2 separate regions of the Homo sapiens genome follow, and region 2 is linked to region 1. Evidence: fine-mapped expression QTL. Tissue or cell type: lung. Region 1 holds a variant in brackets; the other region holds the start of a gene. All regions are shown on one strand. Distances are from middle to middle.

Region 1 (5,380 bases):
TTCAAAACATCATGTTGTATATGATAAATATATGGAATTTTTGTCAATAAAAAATAATAAATAAATATAAAGTCAGCGAAACCTTTGAGATAGGCATGTTGCTCGGTACAACTCGTGGTAGTATGTCTTTGGTGCCCAACTGAAATAGTTTAACCTACTTAGCAGTTTGTCCTTCAAAGGTAGACAGGCTTGAACCCAATCAGAGACCTGTAAGGGATGGTCTGATTCCTGGGTTTCAGAAGACCAAGCAATAAGTAGGAGAGGCCCAGGATAGACCATGGAAAGGGCACATTTTGAATTTTATATTCTAATCATGCCTTTGATCATAGTTTCCTCTAATTATATGTTATTTAGTAACCTACTGGATACAAAAACTGCAGTTTTGATACATTCGATACATTTTCTCCCTCTGCCATGTGGCTAAGAAAGTGCAAATCAGGATGCTGGTTAATGTGAAATTTAAAGGAAATGCCCATTGAGACATATCTTTGAATTCTGCTTCTTCCCACTATGCCTAGGGTGAAAACAGAAGGTCTCCCTGAAGTAATCTTTGCTGTGAAAAGAATTATTTGAGTGGTGTGGTTGACAGAATAGTGGGCCCCTAAAGATGTCTACATCCCAGTCCCCAGGACCTGTTACCTTACGTAGTAAAAGACACTTTGCAGATGTGATTAAGGTAAGCATTTTGAGATGAGGACATTATCCTGTATTAGCCAGATTATCCTAAAATATCACAAGCATTCTTATAAGATGGAGATAGGAGGGCTAAATTTAGGAGAAGGTGATGTAATTTAGAAATGGAGATTGGACGTAGTGGTGGTTGGATATAGAATGGAAGACCATGTAACAATTGAATATGGCCGTGATCCAAGGATTTCCAGAAACCTCTGAAAGTTGGAAGAGGCAAAGAATTGAGCCTTCTTTAAAGGAATCAGACCGGCAGACACATTAATTTTAGCCCTGTAAGACTCAATTCTGACCTCTGATCTCCAGAACTGTAAGAGAGTAAGTTTGTATTGTTTTAAGCCAATACATTGCTGCTAATTTGTCACAGTAGCCATGTGAAACCACTAAGAGTGGTTTCCCTAGTTATGTGAATATAGGATGAGGAGGCATTCCATATTGTTATTCTTTAGAAACCCTGATGTGTAGTTTGCATGAGGAGCCCAGGAGCTCAGTGAGATGGGGACCAAGACATGTGTCCAGAAATTTGGAGTTAGAGGGACCTGTCAGGGAAGACTAGGATGATTCTGACCAACACGTGGCAACAAAAAAGGACAATAGCATGCCTAGGTACAAAGTTTTCTTTTTGTTTGTTTGTTTGTTTTTTTAAGAAAGTGGATGGCCTTGGACAATCCAGGCTAAACTTAAGATTCCAGGTGTTGTTATGGGGAAGGACTGGTGTGACATAGCTTGTTATTTAAGCAAGAAGCCTCTCGGCCTCCAGCGGCCCAGATGTAGTATCAAGTTTTTGGGGAATAATGACTGAACAAGACATTGTGAACAAAGAGAACTCCAGGAATCCAAGTGAGAGGAATCCCTGAAGCCAGAGCAGAGGCTTGGACCAGCCCAGAAAGGGTCTGAGGAACTGACAAGACCAAGTTTCAACAGTGACACGTGGCAATGAAAAACTGGTGATAGTAGGCTGACTGGACCTCACTTCCCTTTCCCCCTGGTCTCTGGGCAAGGATTGACCAATTCAGGATTGAACGATCCCTGAAGGTTCTCTGTAAATGGGAAAAGAAGGTCAGGGTAAGGGAAAAGATGGGGTAGAGTTTAAGAGGGTATGCTGGGCTATCTATTAAAAAGATTTTTTTGATTGAATGATTAGGATAAAATAAGAAATATGTACAATTGTTTCATTCTCTGAGTTTTTGGAGCAGGTCATACTAGCTACAGACAACATTTGTTTAGTGTCAGAAAATTTACAAAGAGATTTCTAGCCTATGCTTTTGGTACTTTTGGAAATTTAAACTAGACTATACCAGTCTCCATATTCTTTACTCTTGCCGTTAATAAACACACACACTCACACACACACACACACACACACACACACACACAGTAATTACAGTAATTCTGTAATACAGTACTATGAAATTAAAGGACTTGCATTTATATGCCTCCTACCCTTAGAATGTTAACTTCTTTAATTGGGAGTCT[G/C]CATCAATAGGCATTTCCCAAAAGTTGCTTATCTTTTATTGAGGGAACACTTTTTATTTTTTATTTATTTATTTTTTTTGTGACAGAGTCTTGCTCTGTCACCCAGGGTGGAGTGCAGTGGTGCAATCTTGGCTCACTGCAACCTCTGCCTCCCAGGTTCAAATGATTCTCCTTCCTCAGCCTCCTGCATAGCTGGGATTACAGGTATGCGCCACCACACCTGGCTAATTTTTGTATTTTTAGTAGAGACAAGGTTTCACCATGTTGGTTAGGCTGGTCTCTAACTCCTGACCTTGTGATCAGCCCACCTCAGCCTCCCAAAGTGCTGGGATTACAGGCGTGAGCCACCGCACCTGGCCTGTTGAGGGAATACTTTATGTCAGACATGGCCCTAAGATTTTACACACCTCATCTCATTTAAACTTTCCCACATTCAGTAAGGTAGATTTTCTTTCCATTTTATAAATGAGGAAGTAGGTTTACAGAGCTTAAGAATTTCTTCTAGATGTTTATGAGGATGATCTCTAATCATATAATGGGTTGTATAAACATCAATTAAGGTCACACAAATCAAGTGACAAGTGAAGTATGAATACTACTAGTAGGATGCTTAAATGTAGCTAGTCTAGGGACAAAATCAAAATATAATATAAATAGAAGATGTAATGTAACAACAATTTGAATATCTCTTATTTTGCGACAATAAATCACTCATTCCTATTAGCAAGTAGCTCAGCATATCCATCTTAAACTCCACCTCCTCTACCAATTTAACATGAATCATACATGTGTCAAACATGTATAATAGATGTATTTAAAAACGCCCAGTATTATGCATTAAATATAGGAAGTGCTTGTTAAAGTTTGGTTGAATAAAGGTTAGCAAATATATACTTTGAAATGCACAGTAACAAATAGGGGAAACAAATGGAATGTTTGATACCATTTCCAAAGTTACAGACTGATTTAAAAAATAGTTGCTACAGAATGACTGACCTGGTATGTATCCCCTTTCAAAAAAAGTTTAAAAGCACCCCATGAACTTGAAAGATGGAATTGCAAAAAGTCTCCCAACTCTGAGTCATTCTACAGCTACAGAATAAAAATCCTTTATGTATGGAAGAGTATTGCTTTTGATTTTTGGAGGGCTACATTTTACATGTGACCACCAATCACCATTTGACATAGACATTTCTGCTCTCTACTGGCATTCATTATTTTCCTTCATCTAACAATATCCAGGCCTTATGCAGGTATCTTCTACTGTCTCACACCTCACATGGGCCTAAGGAGGACCTGACTTCACTGCTGGATCCAGGGATGACTTTGCTGTATCTAAGGCTAAGTTCATTCCTAGAGCCAGTGATTGGTACAGAAGATGATGTGTGACCCAATTAATAATATTAGGGTGGATTTTCAAAGGATTCTTTGAGAAGCATTCATCATTGTAATGAGAGAGATTCTCAGTGTGACCCTCTTCTTCGAACATTGTCAGGATCCTTCTATAGCTGTTTTGCTACTACCCTGAACATGAAGCTTCTATTAAGAACAGAGAAATGAGCTAGAACCACAGAATAAAATCACCTGCCCTCCTTCTCTTCTTCCAGAAGTAAAATATTTCCAGTCTCTCTTCTAGACGAGAAGCCAATTAATACCTGATTGTTTAGGCTAGTTTGAGTTGGGCTTTCTGTTATTTGTAGGTGAAACTATTCTAACCGATACACCATCCACATTTTATTCTAATCAACAGTTCTGCTGTAAATATAACTCTGGTGTTGAGTCAATACAACACATTAAAAAAAGACAGGCCTGACTCATGGTATCAAAATGGTAGGACTGTCTTGCAAACCCAGAAGTTTATACATAGGGGCCTGCCAAGTCAAATACAGCCCTTCTGAAGACCACATTAGTTTAAAAACTTAGCAATTCAAATATGCCTGTGCATCTGAAGTCATCAAGTTCTAGTTCCCTAACATTGTATATTGTATGTTTTGTGAAATTATATGTATCCTGTGATAGCAGGAAACTCAAGTAATAATTTATTTGGCAAAGAAAAGTGAAGAGTGAAGATGGGTACATAATTTATGTATGAATTCCTGTATAACCTTTGCATATTTTAACACCATATGGAATTACTACAATTTTTTTAAAAAGGCTTAAAAGATTTTAAAAAGCCAACAAATTAAGCCAAGACCACAAATTACTTTTAATGCACTTTTAAAGACCACTGGAATCACAGCCATTAAAATTTATTTCAATTAGGAATGATACTTTTTAAGCTCAAAAACAACATTTGACCCTTAAGTAGATGATGAAAATATACATAATTTAAAAAAGATATTCTGAATTTAAATGATCACAGAGCTATCAATATGGGGTTTCAAATTGAGACTATCTTAAGCAATTAACCTAAAATGCCATGTGCATTTTGTTCAAAGACCTAGCAGGGAAGAGCAATTAGCAATTTGTGAATTATCATTTTATTTATATTTATATTCCAAAAGTAAGCTCATGCCTTGAATATACTATAGAGTATAAAATAGGAACCTAATTTACTTAAAAACTTTAAAAGTTTTTATCTGTTAAATGATTACTTATGGCCTATAATCAAGTTACTATATATATTTTTTAAAGCAATTTTTGGGCCAGGTGCAGTGGCTCAAACCTGTAATCCCAGCTACTCAGGAGGCTGAGGTAGGAGGATTGCTTGGCATTCAAGACCAGCTTGGACAACATAGTGAGATCCCCATCTCTTAAAAAATATATTAAAAGCTTGGTAGGCTAAGGCAGGAGAATCACTTGAGCCCAGGAGTTTAAGCCTGAAGTGAGCTATGATTGGTCACAGCACTCCAGCTTGGGCAACAGAGTGAGACCGCCATCTCAAAAATGAAACAAAAAGCAATTAGTTTTTATGTCTTCTTAAGTTTGCTTATTTTCCATCCCAACTAGTATTCATGGCGTATTTATTTGGAGTAAAGTGGTAAAAACTAATCCCGCTCTTATGAAAGCTAGAATATTGGCTTTTGGAATTCCAGAGAGATTTCGTCTTAATATTTTGCATTTACTAAAATAAACAATAAATTTATCTTTTAAATAATTCAATAAAAAGTAGGACATCCAATCTGTTGGTCAGAATTTTTTCACTGTGTTGTCCCTGATGAATCTTATAGCAACTGTTTTCCAACTCATCCTTGAACTCATAGTTCATTATGTTAAA
Region 2 (5,320 bases), 23 kb before region 1:
AAAATGTTGCTACACTTTCAAAGTGTTGGTAGGTTCTGAAAATGCAGTGTTCCTATCTATGACTAGTCAAAAACGACCAACAAGCCATCCCTAGTTTACATCTTTAAAAGAAAAATAGGGAACGAAGAAAGGACATTTATGCTGATTTATTAAACAATAACTTTTTTTCTTTAAACTGTTTATAATCTGCCTAAAGAACAGGTCCAATACATACTTTTAAAAATCGGCCTGGTTCTCTGGCCCCCTGATCATTCTATGCGCTGTAATTCAAGGAGAGCAGAAGGCTGGGAATGCGCAGAGTGAAAGGAAAGTGGGTGCAGATGGCCTCAGAGGGGCAGGTGACCCCTGAAAACTGTTAGTCGACAGCAACCGATCATTCTAGACCTCCATGGCCTTAGTGTCTCACGCTAAACTCGCAAAAAAGTGCCCTTTCAGGGCTATCCTCTGGGCGCTCAAGATTTAGGATTTTGAAGGAAGAAGGTGAAAGCGGGGGAAGACGATTTTAAAAGAAGGGCTGGGTTATTAAATTGAAAAGATTAATCCCGGAGCCTTCCCCTCTGTCAAAAAACCCTGAAAGTGACTAAATTGACACCAACTCTGGATGTTCCTTAGGAAAAAAACAAAACAAAACAAAACAAAACAAGATTAAAAAGGGCCCAATTTAAGACCCTTATTAATACATCTGCAAGAGAGCAAAGAATAACAACAACAACAAAAGTTATACAGTCAATTTTCAATGATACATCGTCCCACTGGTGCCACCGGGGCGCCACCACCCAGCACCCGAGACCCGCCGCGCCCCCGGAAAAAGTGGGAAGGGACGTAGGGGGATGCTGAAGGAAGTACCTTGTTTTGTCTCCAAAGGGCAACATAGCAAACGTGGGAAGTTCGTTTTCGAACTCCGCCGATCCTGGACTCCAGGAGGCTCCGTAGGGGCAACAACGCGCGCAGGTGAGGTGAGGTGAGGTCGGCGACTCAGAACCAGCTCCCTCACGGCCCCGGCCTCCGCGCCGCCGCCCGTCGCCTCCCGCTCGCCCCGCGCTGCGCCGCCCCCTGGCGGGGAGCGACCGGCAGAGCCGCGGCCGCGCGCCGGCGAGTGGGACCCGGGCGTCGAACCCGGGCGGGCTCCTCGACCATCACTGCCGGGCGTGTGTCACCCTCCCGGCCAAGACGGCCAGCACCCGCTGCCCGACGGCCGCTGCCCAGAGCAGGCGGCAGCGGGGCACGGACTCTTTCTGCAAAGGGGCGCGTCCTGGAGTCCACGCACCCCGACTATGCATCAATTCCTCAGGCTTCGGGGCACCCGCCCGCCAAGCACTCTCTGCTCCACTCTTCTTGTCCCTCTGCTCCCAGTCTCAATTCCTCCCCAACTCTCCCGCGAGCGTTTCCCACGAGCGCCCCGACTGCCCGCTGCGCAGCCGCCTCCAAAAGGACAGGCTCCCTCCTCCCCGCCCTCCGCAAGGGCCGCCCCGGCGCTTGGCTCTGGACCAGAAAGAGCTGGCCTCTGGGGTCTGCGCTGCCCCTTGGGGTCCGCTCCAGGCGGCGCCTCCCCTGCGCCCTTTGTGTGCACGCCGCAAACCCCTCTGCAGAGCTCTACTTTTGGCGGCACAGCCTTCGGCGGAAAAGCGAGTGAAAGGAGGCGCGCGGGACAAGCAGGAGACTGGAAGGGGGGAAAAGGCAACCGCACTCACTTTGGCAAGGTTCCGTCATGTTGCCTTTGGGCTGTCCCGTGGACTCGTCCCTCACCCCAGCTTCCCCGCCCAGCCAGGGCCAGGGCGAGGGGGGACGGGGGAGGAGCGGAGCCATCAAGACCGACTTGGAAATGGTGCTTCCGGAGCTGCAGGGAAGGGGCTCAGAAACTGTTTGGGTTTTGCTGATTGGATTTTGGGGAACCAGAGGGCTAGAGAGGGGCTAGGGGAAGGCCCGTGAGCACGGATGTATGAAAATAATCATGTTCCCGGGGAATACCAAGAGGGTCGGGGGTGAGGGTGGGAGGTCGGCAAGTACATTTTTGTATTTGAACTTTGTGAGCAAGTTGTATCAAATCCGACACTTGAGTTTTTCGACTGTGCTCGCTTAGAGTTGAGGTTTCTACCTCGTAACAGGACCGAGGACCTACTTCAAAAGCAAAGGGCCTGGGAACAGGGGTGAACGAAGGGCACAATTCAACAGGGGAGAGAAATCAGCCCCGGGTCTTCCGTGGGTCCTCTTCTTACCTGGTGGCTTTTCTAACAAAGTATGAGAAGGTAAAGTCCCAGTGATCGTCCAGCCATGCTTCGACCGAGTCCTGATCCCTCTGCTGCTGCTTCTGCTGCTGGGGCTGCTGCTGCTGTCGCTGCTGCCCGAAGCTGGGGCCGGCCCGCTCCATGGTTGGCACCGCGCGCCTCGGAGGCTCTCTGGTACTGCTTTTCCACCCCAGCTGGGGTCCGTCCCTCAGAAGAACAGGACTCGGCCTCGAGACCCTCCCCCTTCGTCCTGCTCCAGTCGGGCCGGCTTTCGACAAAGCGGCCGGAGCGCCAGGCCAGCCTCCTGCCCCGCCCCGCCCCGCGCGGTTCTACGGGCGCCCAGGTGTGGTGGGCGGGGCCAGGCGCAGCTGCTGCGCCCCCCCCACCCGGGGTCCGGCAGTGTTCCGCTCTCGCAGGCTCTTCAGTCCCCTGGTTCCCAGGAGGCGGCGGCGGCGGCGGCAGCGGCAGCGCCCGGCGAGCTCTCCGGAAGCCAAGTGGCGGCGGCTGGAAGGAGGCCGCGCGGCCGCTGGGGTGCGCTGTGTGCCAAGCCGACTTCTGGGGAGCGCGCTAGGTGACTGGGTGTGTTCTCAGAGTGCCCCAGGGAGGGAAGGTCGCGATGTGGGAAGTTTTGCCCGAAAGTAAGAGATGATGAGACCCTGGGCCCTTTTCCTGGGGCCTGGGAGTGCAATGACCTTCCCGCCTAGCTTTTCCCTAGCCCTACGCTTGGGTCTGGGAGGAGCGGGACCGACCTCCTTCAGAGCCCAGCCCGCTCAGTGACTTAAAGCGGTCCAGCCACGGACCACTGCGGGTGGAGAGAGCTGGGGCGTGTGCTAGCAAGAGAGATTTGCAGGTGTAGGTGGGTAACTTGCAACAAAGCCATACCCGTGCTTAATGTTAATGATAACAGCAATAATTATAACTTAAGTGCCTTTAACCATTGCCTCAAACTTCCCTTATGCATAACTGGAAAAAGATTTACTTGGAAAAGAAAAAGCAAACAAATAATTTCCAATGCTTTGTGCATGAAGTTAGAAAACAAGGGCACCTCTGTACAATTAGGTTAATCCGAGAGCACTGGCGCAACCCAGGTGCAGTCGAGGGCAACCAGTTATCCCAATTTTAAATTAATGCATCATTTTAATTAAATTGGAATTAACACTCCCTCAAAAGTATCCATTAAAAATGGCTCAGCCTTTTTGTCCAATCCCTATCTTGCTTCTTTAAAAAAGGAATTGGTGTCATCCTTTGCTTTGTCTGCATCCCCATCTTCCTGTCATGCATTGGCAGTTTTAATATGGCATTTTGCAATGACCTATATTTTTTGGTAGAATTAAATCTGGAATTATGGGTTGCACAATGTGTGAATGACACCATTAGCAGTGATATAAAAAAAAATGAGTTAGCTGATATACTTCTGACAACTTCCTTCTAAATACTCTTGGCAAGAATTTAAGGCATTATTCACTACATAGAAACACATCATTAAATTGATAATCTGAGAACTTTTAAAAGTATCTTCTAGTCCCCCAATGCAATGGTTTATCTTTCCTTCATTGAGTAATTGACCTTTTGCGACTTCAGTTTTTCTGAAACTTTACTGCTGTATGCAGGTAGCCACAACCAAAGAAAAGCAATCAAAGCAGTAGAGTATGAACTAATGGGTGATAAATTATATTGGATTTAGAAATGAGAATTCTCTCCTAATGTGTTACTATGATAGTGATTATAGTGCTCATGGAATACAGTCATGCGTCACCGAACAACAGGATACATTCTGAGAAATGTATCCTTAGGCAATTTCATCCTTCTCTGAACATCACAGTGTACTAACACAAAATAGATGGCTCAGCCTACTACACACTTAGGCTATTGCTCCTAGACCACAAATCTATACAGCATATTACTGTACTGAATACTGTAGGCAATTGTAATGCAATGATATTTGTGTGTCTAAACATATCTAAACATAGAAAAGGTACAGTAAAAATATAGTATTATCTTATGGGACTCATATATGTGGTCTGTCGTTGACTGAAAAGTGGCACATTACTGTGGAAAGTTTCTCCTCAGTACAGTTTTTTCTTGTGGAAATCCATGCATTCCTCCTAACAGGAGATCAATCGTAATTTAAAACTCTGCTTATCTACTAAAGATGCAGTGAATTTGGGGCTTGAATTATTTGCTTTTGTTGGATACTTGATTAAATAAACACGTATAATCATTTCAATGTTTGTATTCCCTCCAAAATTCATGTTGAAACTTAATCCCTAATTCAACAGTATTAAGAGGAGGTGCCTTTAAGTGGTGATTAGACCATTAGGGCTCTGCCTTTGTGAATGCATTAGTGCCTTTTTAAAAAAAGGCCCAAAGGAGACAGTTGGCCCCTTCTATTCTTTCCACTATGTGAAGACACAGCACTGACCCTTGCTGAGGATGCAGCAACAAGGTGCCATTTTGTAAGCAAAGAGCAGCCCTCACCAGTTGCCAAATCTGCTGGCACTTTGATTTTGGAGTTTCCAGCCTCCAGAACTGAGAGAAATTAATTTCTATTGTTTATAAATATCCCAGTCTGTGATATTTTATTACAGCAACACAAATGGACTAAGACAGTGGGTAATATCAAAATGTTCATTTTTCTCTCCTAACCTGAAAGGGTTAAATTATCAGAAACCAGGAAGGTTTCTGAAAAATTGCTTCAAGAAAAACAATCTATAGGCTGGGCACAGTGGCTCATTCCTGTAATCTCAGAACTTTGGGAGGGAGAGGTAGAAGGATACTTGAGCTCAGGAGTTTGAACCAGCCTGGGCCACATGGCATGACCCCATCTCTACACAAAATTTTTAAAAATTAGCCAGGCATGGGGGAACACACCTGTAATCCTAGTTATTCGAGAGGCTGAGGCAAGAGGATTGAGCCCAGGAGGTCAAGGCTGCAGTGAGCCATGATCGTGCCATTGCACTTCAGCCTCAGTGACAGTGTAAGACCCCCGGCTCTATAACAAAAAAGAAAAAAAAAGAAAAACAGTACATAGATTCTCTCAATAGTGAATCTCAAGTCTGTGTGGTATATATGATAGTTTGGGAGTTACTGTGAAG

What was found.
Region 2: it holds the start of PDE5A, and the variant in region 1 is fine-mapped to the expression of PDE5A in lung (TOPMed, PIP above 0.99).

What each region holds. Positions count from the first base shown.
Region 1 is chr4:119,649,163-119,654,542 of GRCh38, forward strand. No RefSeq gene overlaps it. Among named protein-coding and RNA genes, the nearest start is that of PDE5A, 23 kb to the left of the region's middle. The variant G/C (reference allele first, on the strand shown) is at 2,164.
Region 2 is chr4:119,626,304-119,631,623 of GRCh38, forward strand. It overlaps PDE5A (phosphodiesterase 5A), which reads right to left and starts at 2,501. Exons shown (of 21, transcript NM_001083.4): 1 at 2,217-2,501. The coding sequence starts at 2,368. LOC107986192 (a long non-coding RNA gene) reads left to right here and starts at 1,487. Exons shown (of 1, transcript NR_165235.1): 1 at 1,487-4,452. RefSeq lists silencers at 935-1,214, 2,435-2,834 and an enhancer at 1,345-1,394.